Regions from separate parts of the Homo sapiens genome. Here region 1 is linked to region 2. Evidence: fine-mapped QTL for protein levels in blood plasma. Region 2 holds a variant in brackets. A gene starts in the other region. All regions are shown on their reverse strands.

What was found. PIP is the chance, under the fine-mapping model, that this variant and not a neighbour inherited with it causes the effect. The UK Biobank Pharma Proteomics Project read protein levels with antibody pairs (Olink). The fine-mapping took linkage between variants from a reference panel, not from the people measured, so its PIPs are less certain.
Region 1: it holds the start of HAO1, and the variant in region 2 is fine-mapped to the plasma level of the HAO1 protein (UK Biobank, PIP above 0.99).

The regions. Positions count from the first base shown.
Region 1 is chr20:7,935,425-7,946,158 of GRCh38, reverse strand. HAO1 (hydroxyacid oxidase 1) reads left to right here and starts at 5,701. Exons shown (of 8, transcript NM_017545.3): 1 at 5,701-5,873. The coding sequence starts at 5,737.
Region 2 is chr10:50,874,891-50,885,428 of GRCh38, reverse strand. All of the region lies in intron 1 of A1CF (APOBEC1 complementation factor), which reads left to right. Among named protein-coding and RNA genes, the nearest start is that of A1CF, 5.5 kb to the left of the region's middle. The variant C/A (reference allele first, on the strand shown) is at 2,673.

The sequences.
Region 1 (10,734 bases), not on the chromosome of region 2:
GGACCCCTTTCACCATATACAAAAATTAACTAAACATGGATCACAGATTTAAATGTAAGACTTCAAACTATAAAATTACTAGAAGACAACCTAGGAAACACTCTTCTTGACATTGGCCCTGGCAAGAAATTTTTGGCTAAGTTCCCAAAAGCAATTTCAATAAAAACAAAAATGGAAAAGTGGGACATAATTAAACTAAAAAGGTTCTGCACAGCAAAAGAAGCTATTAACAGGGTAAATAGACAACCTACAGAATGGGAGAAGATATTTGCAAATTATGCGTCCAATAAAGGCTTAATATCTAGAATCTATAGGGAACATAAAGAAATCAACAAGCAAGAAACAAATAACCTCATTAAAAAATGGGCAAAGTATATGAGCAGATACTCCTCAAAAGAAGACAGACAAGCAGCCAAGAAACATAAAAAAATTCTCAGCATCTCTAATCATCAGAAAAATGCAAATCAAAATCACAATGAGATACCATTTTACACCAGTCAGAATGGCTATTAGTAAAAGGTCAAAAAAAACAACAGATGTTGGACAGTCTGTGAAGAAAAGAGAATGTTTATACATTGTTGGTGGGAATGTAAATTAGTACAGCCACTGTGGAAAGCAGTCTGGAGATTTCTCAGAGAACTTAAAATAGAGCTACCATTCGACTCAGCAATACCATTACTGGCATATACCCAAGGGAAAATAAATCATTCTACCAAAAGGACACATACACCCATATGTTCACTGATGCAGTATTCACAATAGCAAATACATGGAATCAATCCAGGTGCTCTTCAGTGGTAGATTGGATAAAGAAAATGTGGTACATATATACCATGGAATGCTGTACAGCCATAAAAAAGAATGGAATAATGTCCTTTGCAGCAACATGGAGATGGTTGGAGGCCATAATCCTAAGTGAGTTAATGCAAGAGTAGAAAACCAAATACTGCATGTTCTTACTTAGAAGTGGAAGCTAAACATTGAGCACACATGGACATAAATATGAGAACAACAGACACTGCAGGCTACTACAGTGGGGAGGGAGGGAAGGGAGCATGGATTGAAAAACTACCTATTGAGTACTGTGATCACTACCTAGGTGACAGGATTTGTACCCCAAACCTCAGCGTCATTCCATATCCCCAGGTAACAAAGCTGCATATGTGCCTTGGTATCTAATATAAAAGTTGAAATTATAAAAAAGAATAAGCCTCTTAAGAAAAAAGTCCCCCTTTACATTCCATCTCGCCTAAACCATGGTCCTCAAACAATGTTGTGCATCAAATCACCTGGAAGGCTTGTTACAGCACAAATAGCTGTAGAGTTTCTGATTCAGTAGGACTAGGATGACGCCTGGAACTTGCATTTCTAATGACTTCCTAGGTGATGCTGATGCTGCTGGTTCAAAGTCACACTTTAAGAACCAATGGCCCTTATGTGTCTTCTTTAGTTTCACCGGGACTTGACCTGATTAACAATATTAGATTGCCTCTTCATTCTAATCACATTAGTTGCAGGATGCTAATTATTTTAATAAATGCTAAATTTGCACATAAATATGCAGATAAAAGGTCATGCTTTAATCTTTACATTTTGAATGAGTTATAAGCCATAATTAAGATCCCTTTGACCACATTTTCATAATAATTTTGTTAACTATGAAACTGAATTATTTAGAACTTGCTTATCTTATTGGCAGATTTTTCACATCCTAATAGCGATTTTAATATGTCATTTCATCTGTCACTACATTGATGCAAAAAGTAAGCATTTGTGAACTTTGAGAATAAACCTATGTACTATAAAATTCTATGTCAATTTTAACAGCATATGACCCTTCGATTAAATTAAAACCCTTTATTTTTTATATACTATATCATTACAGCTGGGAAAGACCTAATGGCTTATATTTTTGGTTCTGGTTTCATTCCCAGTTTGCCTAATAGGCTGCTATGGAGCCTGCATCTTTGGTTTCTAGTTGCTTTGTCAGTAGTAAAAATAGATTTGATCCATATCCTCTCTCCTGCTCCTTTTGGTGACCCACAGCATGGGAATTTCATATAACAGGTGACCGTGCTTTGTGTTCACTCTGTGGCCACAGGTCAAAACTAAGTCACAGATTACATACTGAACCCCTTAGTATTCTTCTTCATCTTAGACGATTTTCCTTCTCCAAAATAAACTCAAAGGGTATTTACCCACTGTAAGATATGATTTTACACCCTATTCTTTCTACCATATAAAGCCTCATGAAGCATGGGATAAGGCAATTTTCAAAAAGATCTGATAATATAAATATACATTAGTTATGAAAGACACTTCTCTTGGGGGTGTAGAAAATAAACTGGACTAATTGCAAATCTAGCAAAGAAATACTCAAAGGGATTAACTTACTTGAAGAAAAATGGCAATGGCCTTCCAGAAGCTCAAGAATCCCTTTGTCCAATCTCTCGTACATTAGGGAATTGTCCTTATATAATTGACATTAAACAAAAGTCTTTTGGAAAAATGTGTTGGTAAAGTATATTGAGAAGATGAGGGTGGGTAATATTAATGAAATACAGTTTATCATTGAACAATATGGGGGTTAGAGGTACCGACCCACCGTGTAAAACTTTCGACTCCCCCAAAACTTAACAACTAGTAGCCTACTGTTGACTGGAAGCCTTACCAATAACAAAATCAACTTACACATATTTTATATGTTACATGTGTTATATACTGTATTCTTACAATAAAGCAAGCTAGAAAAAAGAAAATGTTATTAAGAAAATCATAAGGAAGGGAAAATATATTTACTATTCATAAAGTGTAAGTGGTACATCAAAACTCTTCATCCTTGTCATCTTCACATTGTGTAGAATAAGGAGCAGGAGGAAGAGGAGAAGTTGGTTTTGCTGTCTCAGGGGTGGAAGAATCTAAAGAAAATCTACATATAAGTGGACCCTTTTTTTTGTTCAAAGGTCAACTGTGCCTACTATATGCCAGGTGTTTAAGCGATGATATATCCTTTGTCCTCACAGTCACTCCTCAGGGTAGGGATGAATATTTCTCTTTGTCTTGGTTTGAGTTTCACCAAAAGGAGACTGAGAGGCAAGCATTCAAATGCAAGGAGTTTATTTGGGAGGTGAAGGGAGCACCAATGAGGAGTAGGGAAGTCTGATTAGAAGGGAAGGCAGCCAGGCCGGGCACGGTGGCTCATGCCTGTAATCCCAGCACTTTGGGAGGCTGAGTTGGGCGGATCACGAGGTCAAGAGATCAAGACCATCCTGGCCAACATGGTGAAACCCCATCTCTACTAAAAACACAAAAATCAGCTGGGTGTGGTGGCATGAGCCTGTAATCCCAGCTACTCGGGAGGCTGAGGCAGGAGAATTGCTTGAACCTGGGAGGCGGAGGTTGCAGTGAGCCGAGATTGCGCCACTTCACTCCAGTCTGGTGACGGCGTGAGACTCCATCTCAAAACAAAAAACAAACAAAAAAGGAACATAGCCAACACAGCATAGATTATCAACCAGCTCACACTGTGGATAACTGAAACCTGCAATGTAGAACATAATCCTAGGAGTAATCCCACCAGAAGAATGAACTTTCTTGGGCTTGTGATTGAGGGCTGTTCCACAGGGTATGGAACTATACTATTTGGCATGCTATGTTTATGAAAAAAGCAGGCTCCAAGTTCAAGAGCAAGTTCTCCTACAGGTGTAGGTGGTTGGAATGTAGATAGTGAACAACTGGCAAGCAGCTTTAAGTGGCGGCTCCTAGATTGAAACTCAGGTCTAACTGTAGTTAAAATCATTGCTTTCTCAAGCATATCCTACTAATGTGAATCTTCCCCAGGTGTTCCATGATTGAGTGAAATTATAGACTGAGACCACAGGTCTTTTGGAATAGCACTTCCCTATACCCTCTCCAGGGCAAGATAAGACTCTAAGAATTAGTGGTAGGCCATGTGCAGTGGCTCACACCTGCAATCCCAGCACTCTGGGAGGCCGAGGTGGTTGGATCACTTGAGGTCAGGAGTTTGAGACCAGCCTGGCCAATATAGTGAAACCCCATCTTTACTAAATAAAAATACAAAAATTAGCCAGGCGTGGTGGACATGCCTGTAGTCCCAGTTACTTGGGAGGCTGAGGCAGAATAATCTCTTGAACCTGGGAGGTAGAGGCTGCAATGAGCCGAGATCACACCACTGCACTCCAGCCTGGGAGACAGAGAAAGACTCCATCTCAAAAAGAAAAAAAAAAAGAATTAATGGTAAACCTAAATGCCCATTAAGAGACAAATGGATAAGGGAAATGTATAGATATACACACAATGAAATATTATTCAGCCTTATAAGAGAAGGGAATCCTGTCATTTGCAGTAGAACCCAGAGAACATTATGCTAAGTGAAATAAGCCAGGCACAAAAGGGAAATTATTGCATTATTTCACTTATAGGTGGGATTTTGTTTTAAAAAAGACTTCAAATGCACAGAGCTAGAGAATGAAACAGTGAATACCACTAGTGGGAAGCAGGGAAGAGGAAAAGGGGTGATATAGGTCAAAGGATACAAAATAGTAGACACGTAGGATACATAAATCTACAACAGGGTCCCTAACCTTTTCGGCACCAGGGACAAGTTTTGTGGAATACAATTTTTCCATGGGCAGTGGGGGTAGGTGGATGGTTTTGGAATGAAACTGTTCCACCTCAGATCATCAGGCATTAGATTCTCATAAGGAGTGGCGCAACCTAGATCCCTCGCATGTGCAGTTCACAATAGGAGGCGGAGCTCAGTCTGTAAAGCTTGCTCACCGGCTGCTCACCTCCTGCTGTGCAGCTTGGTTCCTAACAGGCCACGGACCAGTACCAGTCCATGCTGGGGAGTTTGGGACCCCTGGTCTAGAGAGCAAACGTGCAAAATGAGGACTAAAGTTAATAAAATTGTATCATATTAGGAATTTTTGTTAAATAAGTTGATTTTAGCTGTTCTTGTCATACACACAAAAAAGTAATTACGGGTGAGATGATACATATATTATATTGGCCTCCCTACTGTAACCATTTTTCTGTGTATATGTATCTCATAATATCATGTTGTAAACCTCAAATATACAGAATGAATAAAACAATTAGCTGTCAATTTGGCCTTAATGTTCCATGTTAAAGCCAAATGTCTATGTTTGTAATCAGCTAAATTTTATATTGTGCAGAAGCCCTGAATTTCACGGATGCCCCATATTTCATGGATGCCCCGTTCAGTTCATAAGCTCTTGTTTACATGATTTGTGCATGATCCAAATGTGGAAAGAAAATGAGTGGGCAGCCTATTCTGGGTATCAAGCAAAGAGCACAGGCACAGACCATGTGCAATAAGCAGCCTTAGGCAAAACTGAACCAAGAGTGGTTTCATACAGGTATTCCTCTAAGTCTTTAATTTTTTACTTATTCCTTTCCCCTTTTTAATGTGATAGACACCTAATCACCTTCTGCTGCCTTCCCAACCTCAACTTTGGTGTTCTTTGGCAGATAGTGACTTCGGTGTTCTTTGGCAGATAGCCTACAAATGAAATTTCAAAGGCTAAGCATATAATGTTTGCTCACTTGATGTAAGCAACAGAGAACTAAATCTGAACTTTGGCAAAAGTCTATTAATAATTGACAAATAACAGAACAGTGAGGATGTAGAAAGCAATACATTAAAAAAAAAAAAACAACGAACTCCATCTGGGATAGCAATAACCTGTGAAAATGCTCCCCCGGCTAATTTGTATCAATGATTATGAACAACATGCTAAATCAGTACTTCCAAAGTCTATATATGACTATTACAGGTCTGGGGCAAATGATGAAGAAACTTTGGCTGATAATATTGCAGCATTTTCCAGGTAAGAAAATTTATTTTTTAAAATCATGTTTTAAAATTACACAAAGACCGTACCAAAATAAGATCTCCTAGTTTTACGTTGGTGGTGTGTAATTATTTGTTCAGATTTGTGCTTAGTAGAGAGGGAAAAGTTCTTGGGGCTGTAAGAAATCTTGGGCCTTTAAATTGTTAAAAAATATTCCAAGCCTGTGAATCTTGAGGAACTGACTGCAAAAGCCAAACCTATGTTACTTCACTTGGAAATATGACAACAATTAATTTAACTACATGTAAAAATAGCGATAAATTCGGATGACTTTTCTTTTTCTTAGTATGACAGTAAATGCTTATGTTCATGGTGTAGGAAACAGCATTAAATGCCAGATAACCATCTTATCCGGATGAACCAGACTGGATTGTTGGCTCAAATGTTTTCTTCCTGCTGGCTTTTCGTGTTATCATTCATTTTGATTACTGTTGTCTAAACTTTCACTTTAGATTTCAATTTGTCTATGCAGCATTAATCTTTCAACTTTGCTGTTTCATCTCTCCTTCAAAGCACTTCATCTCTCTTCCCAAATTAGTTTTCCTTTGACTTTCATATTTCAAAGCACAAGATGGTGGGTGACATGGTTTATGTTTTCTGTTTGTAATAAAAACAAGAAATAAAATCATTTCAAAGGGTTTTTTTTTATAGCAGTTACAAAAATGGTTTATTTGCTGGAGCAAGAGAGGAGTGCCTTCACTACACTACACTCAGTCTCATCCATCTAACATTATGGCTGTTAGTAAAGGCAATCGGTATTGTGGGTACTCATTGATGGTGATAAAGACAAAAAGGCAGAAAATATGCAGGGGGAGAGAATTAGCCTTCCTCCCTGATTTCTTCTTTAGTCTACAACAAAATCACTCAAAATCAGTTTTCCATATTTAAATTAGGAGAAATAAAATTATCCTGGCCAAGGTGGTCTCTGGTAGGCAGCACTGATTCACCCACAAATCCATGTAGAAGACTGAAAATGGCAATGGGGTGAAGGATACGGCCTCTCCCCAACCCTTTCAAGCCTTGACTTTGTCTCAGGTTTTGCCTGGAACCCAAATGAGCTCAACAAATGCCAGGGAAGTCATGGGAAGGGAAGTTGACTGAGAGTAGAGGGGCTTAAAATTCTGCATCATTATTTACTATTTTGGACTCATTTAAAAGTTTCTGCTCTTGGAAGATGCCCCTTCTTGGGCCGATATTAACTTTGTCCACCAAAATTTGCCTATGAGTGGTCTCTTGAAAACACTTTAACCCAAATAGGTTATTACAACCAAGGAAATTTCAGACCCTTGACAGATTTATAGAGTTAGTGTCTCAGCATTGCTAGACCTCCAATGCTCAAGTGATTATTTATTTCATTTGTATACAGCTTTCCTTACTTCTTAATTCCCTTTGTCGCATGCTAGCTAATTAACTAGAGCTAATTAGGAGTCTCCATGAGCTACACTGTGTACTACATGCTGAGGACAAAGCAGTGAGCCAGACAAAGTTCCTGTCCCTAGGAACTTACATTCCCCTGGATGCATATCAGCCTCCATAATGCTGTTGGGTTGAATTGATGCAAAATGGGCCCAAAATAGTTGGCCAAGTGGAGGTCTCAGAGAGGATGCAAAGGGGCGCCCCAAAGCAGATGGATCACCTATGCAACCCTTTAAAATGTAGAAACTTTGGGAGACATAGAAGGCTTGGTGACTTCTAAGTTATGAACTGGAAAAGTGCCTCATGCCTTATGTGAATTACATGGTATTCAAGTGAGTATTCCCATCCTATGTGTGTACCGAGTAACTTAGGGATAGGACACAGATAATGAAAATGAATTTGCAGTGTCACCTTTTCCATGAACCTTGATCATTCTCTTTTGTTCAGCTTTAAATTAAAAAAAAAAATCAATCAACTTTCTTTGGAGGACAGCTGATGCTATTTTATTATCAACTAGTTGAGTTTTTATTGCAATACATTTTGCAATGTGTCCTCTTTTGCTGTATGACTCGCTAGGTGAACCTTGATTCCTCACACTGCATCATGTAGCTGGTCACGTGAAACTAAGAATAGAAATTCTGCCAGGGTTGTGGAGACTTTGGGTTGATGGCATGAAGGAAATCAACCTGAAATTTCACATTCTGATTCTAATGAAAAGTGCAAAACAATCAAACCTCAGATAACCCATTGTGATACAAAGCCAGAGTATTTCAAACACATTTATGAAATTTATACACCTCCCCATCTCGCAAGTACAACAAAAGGTCATTCACCGTGACAGCTTTTATTTCTCTGTACTCAGCTCTGATAATCACATTTTGGAGTTCTGGGGACATGGACCACTCATGTGACCCAGCAGTTGCTTGGAGATATTTTTGGGTAAGACTTCAGACTAATATTACTGTGGCAGTAGAAAAAAATGTTTAAAAGGACAAGTAAATGGAACCACCCAGAACAAAATTTCTTACGGTGGTTATAACAAAACAGGGTAAATGTCAACTTGCTACATTTTGCATGGCTGGAATTGATTGGGATTAATTCAACGAAGAACAGTAATTTGTTTCTCTTACACATTTATTCAAAGTAGCCTTCTCAACTATGGTCTTCACGTTGTTGTAGCTTTTTTTTCTGAAATTATCAATGATGGAAGATGATTAAACAATTTCGACACTTAGAAGCCCTCATGATTTCAGAAAAGGAAACTCTTTTCTGCTGCGTTACCTATTGAGACTGAAGATGGCATCATTTTCTTTTAAATAACAGATGGGTAAAAGTGATGTCATTCTTTCACTTTAATATTTGAGAAGTGATATGAAGTTACCAGTGACATTGTGTTCTCATAGGCATAAATGTCACAAAATAATTTATCTAGTATCCACAATAGGTGAATAAGGTGTTTTTGCTTTATATATTTTAACTGTTTAGAGTAAAAAATTAATGTGGAGAAAATTGGAATGCAGTATTATAGGATTACACAACTTACAAAACATGAATCCACTATGTCCAGTTAGTGTGATTCAGAAACAGCATGCAGTTATAAAGCTGGGTGAGGCATGGGTGTCTTCCTTCAACAGGGCAGCTACTTTGTGAGGAGTGTATATATCATTTGATTTTTTTATAAGTTAAATTTGAGGCCCCTGTTAGATGTGAGGGTGGGCCAAAATTCCTGTGAACAGATTCTCCCCGTTACCCCGCTTCCTTTACTCTGGCATCTCATTTTCTATCCTTTGAAAACGGTTTATTATTCAATTGGTTCAACTGTTTGCCAGTTGAACCAATTCTTTTTCCAAAGTGGAGGCCCAGGAAAGCACAGTCCGAGAATATAGTGAGGTGCTATTTTATGTATGATTGTGGGAAATTTACTTAAATTTGGAGTGGGGTTGGGCAAGGCTTGGAAAGCTAGTGAGCTATCTGACATAGTTGTTACTACTATTTGAAAAATATCAAAACATGGAGGACTCTTTAGATAACATGCCTGTTCCCATTCCATTGATTTTATCTAATTTTACGTAGCAATTACGTTTTGTGCATTGGTTGACAAGCCTCTGTATTATCCTCAGAACAGAAAATACTGTTTAAGGGAAATTAAGAGCCCGCAGTTACTAAAGTGACTGCGCCACCAAGTGGACAAGTGTAAAGCCACTGTCTGGAGATGGAAGGATTCAGCTTTGCTTTATAAATGGGAATTTGACCTTTAAAAATGTCCCTTTTGGCACGCACGCGCGCGCGCGCGCGCGAACACACACACACACACACACACACACACACACACACACACACACGGCTGCTGCCCTGCAGATTTGCTTGTTCTTGTCATAAAGCTTTCATTGTTTCTCTAGCTCTAAGTAAATATTAATGCCTTCCAAGGCTGGCATGCCAATGGCTGCTATTAAGATCGTTTTCTCTCATTCTAATAACACACTTAGAGATGATTGGTAATAAAAACTCTCTTCAAGGCTTCTGCTTCTCCCCCTTCAAAATGGAGATCAAAGAATCATGCTGTGAGGGTCCGTCAAGAAGAAAAGACTTTCAGCAACAGAGCATGTGGTGTGGCATAAAATAATGACAATTATAATGTTCAAAGGAATAGCATAGAAATCACACAGTAAAACTTCTTTATTATGCTTTTCAGGGACTGGATGTTTTTACTTTATTATGTGAGGAAGGGTTAGATTACAGACCCTTAGCTATTCCACAAAGCAATAGAAGGCAGAATTTCTTCTTCCGCTACAGGAAGCACGCTTCGATTAAGGGCTTTTTCTTTTTCTTCTTTTTTTTTCTTTAAGTTACTGCATTACTATATCATACTTCACTATATTTACTAAAAAGTCATGCTGTTTCTGGAAGTAGAGTTACATCTAGGAAATACTAGGTGAATGCTGGTTAGATATGCATGTGTGCCTAAACAACACGTTTATTATACTCATGCATACTAGAAATAGGGCTGTATTTTCTTCAATTTTAATCAGTACTAATGAGAATAATAAATCAAAACAAATAGGAGAGATATATTTTGCCAGGAGGAAAGAGAACTAGTTCTTCTGTAAATTTTACTGGTGAATTTTTGGTTGCTGGTTTATTGGTAATTTTCATTCCAACACAGAAGAATCACAGAAACATTCATTTAAAATAATTTTCCGGAGTCAAAAACTTTTTAACACCCAAATTTCAGTTTTTGTCAAATAACATTTTTGAGAAAAGTGTTAAATTAAACTAATAAAAAACCTTCCCTCATCATTAGACTTTAATGAATATGGCATATAACTAAATAATTTTGAAGAAACCAAATTATAATTTTAAAAGTAATTGCCTGAAGCTGCTGTTTATCACATAAAAAGAAGACAAACTAGACATAGCATAT
Region 2 (10,538 bases):
AACCAGAAAACAAAAGAATATATTGGAATTATTATATAATCTCTAAATGAGATAGCTGCCAGGATTTAATAAATTTCTGTAGACTTACCACGGAGGGTTCAAGAGTGGAGCCAATGTTGTGAGAAGTTTATTTAGCTCTAACCAGACAGCAGGGAGAGTTGTGGTTGAGTGCCTGTCCCAATCCTAGGACCCTGAGAAACAAAAATATAATTAACAAAAGAAATAGTATTAACATCACCAGCAGATTTTGAGTTCTGTGTGTGGGTCATAATTCCTATCATACTTTAGACTTCATATATTCAATTATCTCCAGAGCTACTACCACCATAAAAAAGAAAGTCTTGGTACAACTCTTGCGATTCCGCCTGCCATTATCTTGCTAACCAAAGGAATGTTTAAACTATTCACTTTTGATTCTGACCAAAAAAATATTATGGAAAATGACTGGTTTTCAGTGTGTTAAATCTGAACCTTGGAATGGCTAATTATTATATTGTTTCCACAATTTGGGCAACTGTGCTGAGGTGGATATATTTTCACATATTTTTTTTGTGTACTCCAAAAACATTATAATGGTATTTTAGCTAAAGAAAGAAATCAATCTGGACATTTACCAAAAATATCCCATTTTTACCAGAAACCCCCTAAACTCTCTGACTTTTTGTCATGATTACCTATGTAAATTCCAAGAAGAAAGGATTCCAAACTAAACAATTTTATTTACTATAGGACTTTTCAGATATGTATTGTATATCTCCAAGAAGATGAAGAACACAGCATTATTTGCACATTGTGCAGGATTAGTGTTTTATAGATCGTATTTTGGCAAATTCAGCTCTAGTTATAGTTTAGGAGCATCAAAAAATGTGTTGGTCTGCTCTGAAATTTTCTTTATAACGTGTGCTATGGAGCATGCAATGGGAGCACAGGTCTGGAAATGACAGTGATATCACTTATTTGTCAAAGCAGTAAGGTTTTGCCCTGCTAAATACAGAGAAAGAGACAAATGACTTATAAGGTTCATACTTTCTGGAATAACATTGACTCTGCCCATTTCAGACAACTCTTAACATTTTACTGTTCTATTTTACTATTTATCGATTTCAAGGGAAAAAAGAAGACAGCTGGCAAGGAAAAGAAATATTGTTGTGGGCAAACATTATAAAATGACATAATGGATATTAAAACACTATAAATACTTTGTTCTTATTTTCTACTGCACTAATGCCAAGGTGGTTTTATGTCATTTCAAATATCAACATTTCCTACACTATATTCAGTGGATGTTAATAAATGTGGCTCAAAAGAAAAGCAACTCCATTGTCAAGTAAGTTGAGGAAACAGTGTTAGAAAAGTTATAGCAGGTTTTGTTACCACATGAGTGTTTTGAGTAATAATGATAACAAGCATCTGTGAAGCACTATATTATCGGGTCTACTTCTAAGTTCTCTCCATGCATTATCTCATGTTATTCTTGGAACAACTCTATGGTGTGATACTATTATAACAGTTTATAAATGGGAAAATGGAGGCACAGACAAATTACCTAACAGGCTCAGCTACTCAGTTAGCAAGTGGCAGAGCCAGGCTCCTTTGTCTGGTAGTCTGATCCAGAGCCCAAGCACGTAACCATTATATCATACGCTCGAGCACTGGGGACTCATGACACATGCAAATATTGTCATTTATCACAACTATCTAAGAGAGTAGGCAACGTTTTGTTTCCTGGGCTTAATTTACAACAGAACATCTTCTTTCAGGAACATCTATCAATATCTCTCAAAATTGGCATTTCTCAGAATACAGAACAAGAAAGACCAAATCGCTTTTATAGCCCATGTCCAGCATTCAGAACAATCAGAATCCATTGAAATAATCACAGTTGAAAAATCTAAAGGACTTTAGAGTCTAGTCTTCCACCAAATAGGACTATGCCTATCTGAGAAACTTTTAAAATTAATTACGGAAAGAACACTAGGCTTTGTGCCTCGACACAGCTAAGTGGAAACGCCTATTGTAAAACTCCCTAGGTTTGTGACCTTGGGCATATTGTTTGACTCCACTGAATCTCAGATTCCTCAAATGTGAAATGGGGGTAAGATCTGACCCATAGTATTTTGTGAAGTTTAAATTAGATGATAAAGCAAAGGAGAGAAATGTGGTCCCCGGTACTTAAGAATTCAGCAAAAACCCCACTTCCCTTTTCATTTTCCTATTTGTAACAACCTCCAGAAAAATTTTCTAAAATTGCCCAAGTATACCTATTAGGCCTTGTTTTTCAAAACAATACTAATAAAGTTGAAATCACAAACTGTACATAAAAAATTTTGATTAATCACAAATAGTAGCACTATTCCATTTATTCAGAGAAAGACAGTCTGTAAATTTTTTTAGTATTAAAGCACACACACAGAGTATATTTTTATTTTAGAGATTATTGCTGAAGAAAACTCTTAGTTATAAAACCCCAACACCTTTTCACCCAAACCCATGGGACACCCTGACACAGTGCATGCTCATTTCATCATGGAGGCAGTTGATGTTAAAAATCTGTTTCAGTAACTGTCTTTTAAAAATTGTCATCCCTTAGAAAGCTGAGTAGTACTGTGGGTACTATTGCACAATGGTTTTCATTACCTTATGTGTCTCTAAAATGACTCAATAAGTTCAAA[C/A]AAGACAGTATTGATCGACAGAGGATAAACACCATTTTATCTTATTCACAGAAACAGTAACCAGGCTCCTGCAAAGTGCAGCTCTCACAATCCAACTGCCCCCAGGAAAAGCATCTGGAAAAGGAGCAGCACTCTTGCGGTGACATTCTGTATTAGAAATCTGTATCCCATCTGCTCCTTGGCCTGATCCTGTAAAATCTGGAGAGTTATTAACAAATGTTTGCTGCTGATTCAACCAGGAAAGCTAGTTCATCATTTCATTTCATCAAATCTACTCCAACTAGGTTATCAGTTTTTTGTTGTTGATGATGGTTTGTTTGTATGAGATGGAGTATCGTTCTGTTGCCTAGGCTGGAGTGGTGGTGCAATCTCAGCTCATCACAACCTCCACCTCCTGGATTCAAGTGATTCTTGTGCCTCAGCCTCCCGAGTAGCTGGGATTACAGGCACACGCCACCATGCCAGGCTAACTTTTGTATTTTTAGTAGAGACGGGGTTTCATTATGTTGGCTAGGCTGGTCTCGAACTCCTGAACTCATGATCTGCCTGCCTCAGCCTCCCAAAGTGCTGGGATTACAGGCATGAGCCAACATGCCCGGTCTAGGTTATCAGTTTTAATGACCACTTAGAATTTTTAATTTAATAAACTAAAATTTTGTATTGAATATTTTTGATTGATGCAATCCAAAAATTAAAACATGCCCTTTTGTAAAAAATCATCGTCCTGTATAAGATATGCTGGTATCTTGAGAGCTCTAATTTGATTTCTTTTAAACATATGTAAGCTAAGATTTTTATCCTATATAGATTTATATGTGGAGTTTTATGCATATATGTATTAACAATCACATGGAGAACATTTTCCAAGTTTGTTTATTCAATAGGAATTGGTCCCTGGTAATATTAAGAGAGAAATACTAATAAGGATGTAAGATAAATCCTTCTGATTTGCACAGTTAAGTGCAATGCTCTGCTCCAGATGTAATATGACTAAAGAGAATTAACACATGACAATTTAGGCAGACAGAATGTCTAAGTGAGCAGATTGGTTTATAATTCTATAAAATCCCACCTGCAGTAGTGATGTAGTGATGCCTTCCCTCCCTCCAGCAATTAAAAACTATTCATTGTTTTAGGATGCCCAATTGATTTAAAAATCACTAGGTTTAAGTAGTAGAACTAACTACAATATCTTATTTCCATAGGATATTCTAGTTTATAAAGCTTTTCATATACAAGAACTTATAAAGATTTTTAATGGCAAATTTCTTATAGTTGATGTCAATTCAGTATGCCTAGTTTCTTCAAGGTAACTGTGTCAATATTCACCATTCCAATTGTACAAATCTGATTAACTGAAAGATGCTCCCACCTATCGTTTATAAGCCCAACTCTGTTTATGTAACACAATGATGTCCAACTTCACTGGACATTAACTAATGTACCTATCAGTTAAGAGGCTAGATGAGGCCGGGCGCAGTGGCTCACGCCTGTAATTCGAACACTATGGGAGGCCAAGGCAGGCAGATCACCTGAGGTCAGGAGTTCAAGACCAGTCTGGCTAACATGACGAAACCCCACCTCCAGAAAAATACAAAAATTAGCCAGGCATGGTGGTGGGTACCTGTAATCCCAGCTACCCAGGAGGCTGAGGCGGGAAAATCACTTGAACCCAGGAGGCGAAGGTTGCAGTGAGCCGAGATCGCACCATTGCACTCCAGCCTAGGCGACAGAGTGAGACTCCACCTCAAAAAAAAAAAAAGAGTCTAAATGAAAACAGTGAAGAGAGGACATAAAGGTCCATGTGGAAGGTGAGAGAAGAACCACCCCCATATGGGACCTAGAAGAAAACAGCCCTAAAAAGATGTAATTATAACTCAGTCCAGATGCTGTGACTAACACAGTGAAAGATATAAAGGAACAGAGGTTTATAAAATCTCCTACCTGCCTGGCAGGGGACTGGCAAAACATTGTGCACAAATGAAATTTTTTATTTCTATTGATTTTAGTATTCTATCCAGCTCTTCTACTGGGATTCTGCTTAGTGCTTATCTTTCCATCTGGGGCCTTCAGCATGAACTAAAATGTACTTTAAATTATTAGATGTAATTAAACTCTAATGCCTCTGATTATTTGAAATGGAAGTCAGAAATCAAAATCAGGTTCCATGGGGGGAAAACTGTGTTGGCACATATAGATGTTCATCTCAGGAATCCTCTTTCTAACCTTCTTTTCCGAAGATCCCTAAGAGTTCCTCGCCATTCATGTACTTACTACCAACTAATTATAATTGGCACCCTACGATGATGATAACAATGATGTTAATAAAATCTCTTACATCCTCTTACATCCTGCCACATGCCAGGCACATAGGTTAACTCATTTAATCCTCCATCACTCTATGGAATGGGTACTATTGCTACGCCATTTTTCCAATAAAGCAGCTACAGCTTAGGGACACAGAGAAATTTGCCCCAGGTCACACCACTAATAAGTGGTGCAGGAGTGAGTCCGGGCAGTCTGGCACAGGCCACCCTGTGAACAAAGGACAAATGGAACACTGGGAAGCATCAAGGCTTAGAACTGAAGAAAACTTTTGAGATCCTTTATTTGACAGAGAAAAGCAAGTTGGGTTCCCCAGCTTGGGTTTTTGTTAGAATGAGAACCCAAGAGCAGAACCTGAACCCTCTGTGGATACTTTTCCATTATACCACTTCCCACTGTAAAGCATTTCTAATTCAGCCTGATTCTCTGTGAAAATTCTGAGAGACGAATTAATAGAATCCCTATAGTTAAACAGGAATACTCCCTTCACTCCAAGTCTCACCTTCCTTGCTGTGCCCAGACTCATGGACTGACCTAGCCAGAGACTCAGTTAAAGGAGACCCATTTTGTGACTTGGAGAGACTGACAGGCCCACATCACAGAGGAAATACATGCAGACACAGACATGGATATGGTTTAGCTTTTTGTCCCCACCCAAATCTCATCTTGAATTGTAATCCTTAGGCCTGAAGGAAAGAATCTGGTGAGAAGTGATAGGATTATGGGGGTGGTTTCCCCCATGCTGTTTTCATGATAATGAGTGAATTCTCATGAGACCTGGTGGTTTTATAAGTGTTTGACTTTTCCTTCTGTACACACTACTTCTCTCCCCTGCTGTCACATAAGAAGGCCTAAGCTTGCTTCCCCTTTGCCTTCCACCATGATTGTGAGTTTCCTGAGGCCTCCCCAGCCATGCAGAACTGTGAGTCAATTAAACCTCTTTCTTTATAAATTACCCAGTCTCAGGTATTTCTTTGTAGCAGTATGAGAACAGACTAATACAGGCACCATGAACATAGTGACAGGATAAACCATGGAGGCATTGATAAAAATAAAAAGTAATTGTGATGAATGACTTGGTTGCAATTACACTCAAATTCTGTTAGTGTCTGAAGAGGACATAGCACCTCCTACCTGGAGGACATACCCTTTTCCCCATGGAAAAAATAATTGGGCTGCTAGGTCTGTGTCTGCTAAGGGAGTCCCATATTTAAACTGACCTAATTCAGAACTTTAAATTGAGACTCAGATGCTCCCAAATAGCAGCTCCACCAACCTGAATAGAGTTACTCATTTAGAATAAGAGTTTGTTCCCACAAGTTTTGTTAAAATACAAATTAGTTGGGATGCGGGGTGTGAGTGATAGGGACTAAAATCGCTTAACAGACTAGCCTGGCAAAGCCCTGTGGGAAGCAAGTTTTGATGATAGGGAAGAGAAGATGTCAAGAGCAGATGGTCCAGGGAGGAAGTGTCACAAGTAACTTGGGGGTGATATAAGGGACTTGAGTAGCAGGTATTTGTCTGATCTTTAAGGAATTAACTTATTAAAGAATTTTGTTAGTAAAGTCATTTGAGTATCACACTTGCAACATACTAATTCATCCATGTCTAGTTTTCTCATTAAATCACAGATATTTAACAGGTGCATTAACTTGAATTGACATCATGCAGCAAATGCCATTATATGGACCCTTAAGATATTTTAAGAGAAAAACCTATAATGCCTGGAAACTCTTAGTTTTCTCTGACATTTAAAAACAAGCCGTAAAATCAAATCCTTTCTATAATAATTTAGTAACTCAGAATTGCAAAGGATTTCCTAAAGCCCAATGATCCAAAGCTCTGACCTGTGATGTTGGCATAGCAGAGTGGGAGACAAATCATATGTTAAAGCAGAAGGCTCTGGATCTGGAATGCTTGGATACAAATTCTGGCTCTACCACTTGCTACAATTTAACTCTAGGCAAATTACTGAACTCTGTGACTATTTCCTCTTCTGTAAAGTCAGGGTTGTTTCAATAATTAGATCAGAAATTGTAAAGTGCTTAGAATAATACCAAGCAAGTGTGCATAAACTTTAGCCATTTAGCTATAACTCTCATCATATTTCTGTGTTGATTACAAAATGCTTTACTAGAGGAAAATAGATGAGAAAGAGGCCATGAGGTAAAAATGTACAGTGCTTTTTAAAGTAGAATGAGGTGGCTTAGAAATTAATTCTATCCCCATCACTGGCTTGTAGTAGAAATTTGAAACAGTCTCTCCCTGATTCTCTGGCAGTTTTTCTCTTTTTTTCTTTTTTTTCTTTTTGAGATGGAGTCTCACTCTGTCACCCAGGCTGGAGTGTAGTAGCGTGATCTCAGCTCACTGCAACCTCCGCTTCCCGGGTTCAAGCGATTCTCCTGCCTCAGCCTCCTGAGTAGCTGGGACTACAAGCATGTGCCACCACAACTGGCTAATTTTTTGTATTTTTGGTAGAGACAGGGTTTCACCTTGTTAGCCAGGATGGTCTCGATCTCCTGACCTCGTGATCCTCCTGCCTCAGCCTCCCAAAGTGGGGGGATTACAGGCGTGAGCCACGGCGCCCGGCCCTCTTTCAGTTTTTTCTAAGACAGAGACACTCCCTATCACAGACAGGGTCTTCTAAATTAGTAGAGAATGATTTGAAGGAAACTGGGTAATTATCAGAGGAAGTAAAAGAGAAATACAGATCCTCACACCAGAATGCAAATCTCTAAGACTTTATTATTTTCATCACTATGAAAGAAAAGATCAGTACTCAAAGCCACTTATGATGATGCATGTAAATTAGCATAAAATCAGAACAAATATAATATGGCTTTTAAAATAGAAACATAAGGCTATCTTTCCTTACAAGTGTCAGATTGCTTCTGTGCCACTGTAACACAGAGCTTTAGATGGATTTTTTAAAGCTTCACTCAGAGATCAAATGTACTCCATTAGTCAGTGATTGGCAGACTTGGTGAAAATTGAGTTTTCAACTTAAATTTCTCCAAATTGGTCTGAGGAAACCAGATGCAGCAACTAAGTTCAGAAGGTCAGAGTCTCAATAAGGTTAAAAAGAGAGGGAGAAACATAACACTAGAAGTATGAATGAATGAAATAGACCACACACAGCTCATCAGGTCTCTATAATATACCACGCAAATAATTGGTACCAGGACTATTGAATAATCAACTGCTTTTAAGCTGAAGAATATCTACATTGTATACCATGATTACCACTTTACCAATTCAAAAGACAACTTAAAAATTAAACATATATACAAAGACATTCTGCTTTTTTCATTAGGCCATGTCATTCTATAATTTCTAAATTCTGTCAACTCTCTTCCCCAGGAATCTTCTAGAAGTCAGGCATTTTGGGAATAGTTGAGTATCATAATTGAATAAAGATAGCACAACAGTCACCTGTAGTAGTCTGATCTTACAGGTACTAGAACAATAACAGCACAAAAACAGAGTTACGTGTATGTATTATTCAGTGTTCTCTAGAAGAAAACATAGTATATGTATATATAGGCAATACATTTATAAATGCATAAAACAAATATAAATTTGTGTAAGTATGCATATAAATATGTAAGTCTACACATATAAATACAAATAAAGAGATTTATTCTATGGGATTGGCTCATGCAATTATAGAAGCAGGAGTCCCAAGATTTGCAGTAAGCAAGCTGGAGATTCAGGGGAGCCCATGCATAGTTCCAGCCCAAGTCCAAAGGCTTGAGACCCAGAAAAGCAATAGTGTAAGTTCCAGTCCAGAAGCCATCAGGTTAGAGACGCAAGAAGAGCCAATATTTCAAGTCCGAAGATCAGGAAAGGCCAATGTCCCTGCTCTGTCATGCAGGCCCAGCTCCCTCTTACTCAGCTTTTATGTTTTATTCAGGTTTTCAATTGATTGGATGAGGCCCACTCACATTGCATCTGCTGTTAAAATTTTCCAAGATCTTTTTGGGGTTAAAAACCTATCATTCATCTCTCAATCTTCAGTGTTGACAAGGACAGAGCACTTATGAGTATTCCTGTTTCTGAGTTTCTGATAAGCTTGTCCAAGTGGAGCACAGGCTGGACAATTTATAAGACAGTATTGAAGTCAGAGCAATTACAAAAGGAAAGGGGTAGGTTTCTTGTGTGATGTGCTGCAAACACTGACCTCTCAGAATTTATTCGGCCCTGTGTGTATATACGTATTCATGTCTGCACATATGTGCTAGTTCACTTATACATCTATACATACACACAATCACATATACCCAAGATCTGATGGAATAGACATGAATTTGGCTTAGCCAGGGAAATTATAGAAAGAATAATGGGAATCCTAGGCATGTGGGAAATGGGAAACAAGGACAAAGGCGCCTAGGTAAAATAAAAAGCAACTGGTGTGCCTAGGAGACCTGATGGACTTGAGCATGGAATAGCTCCAGACTTGTATTGAAAGAAAATCAGGAAAGTCAAGTTACGACCAGGTCATGGCAGGCACTGAATGTCAGGTTAAGGGGCTGAACTGTTTCTTTCTAGTTAGTGATGGGTCCAGTGAAGGATTTGGGGCAGGAGAATACTAGAAGGAATATTTTAGGGAGATTGATCTTCCAGTGGTGTGCAGAACAGATATGCCATGCCTAGAGGGTAGTAAGCAGTGACATTTCTTTCACTCTACACTTTAGCTGAGCTCAGGGTAAGTCCAGTAATGGAAGATGGGGTGGGAAATAGAGCTAGGAGTGTAGAGAGGGCAACAGGTAAGGATACATATGTACCAAAAGCAGAAAACAAGTTAAGATCCAGGCTTCATGAGGTGCCTATATTGAAGATTGCTCTGGATAAAGAGACTGTTAGGACTTCAGAGTTAGAATTCATAGCAATTCACAGAACTGCTCAGGCTCTTCATTATTCACCTGACTCAACTCTCCTACATCTGCTCCTTTCTCCTAAGAGATTTCCTTGCTCTCTGTCCTTTCTCTACCCCACAGCTTTTGCTTCCTTTCCGTACATAGAACCACACAACAAGTACTAGTTTTATGCATGCAGTGGTCATATAAATATCTTATTGGCGAGTCCTCATCAAAACTGAGTTGAAACAAACCATTTGAGCCAGAATTTAGTAAGAGTCAGATTTTTTAAGGTACTTCAAGGATTTTATTTATAAATACAACTAGGAAAACATTTACTCATTAGAAATGATGAAACCATAGACAAAACAATTATTAGAGAAAATTTTGAATTATTCTTTTCTCCTGCTGTCTAATTTCTACCTTTCTCATGTAGTCTTTTTCTTTTTAATTAGATTTTTTATGTGAGTATATGGTCCATGTATTTGGCTGGTGGAATAAATTCAATTATTCTCAATTGTTTTGTTTGACCTGTCACGTGTGTAAATTAGAGCTTCAGTCAGCTGTTCTAGATGCAACTGCATATTGTTATCACCTGAGAAGCTTTAAAATCTGTCATTTCCTGGGCCCCATTCCAAACCAGCTGAATCAGAATCCTTCCGGGAGGGTAAGATGATGCCTAAGC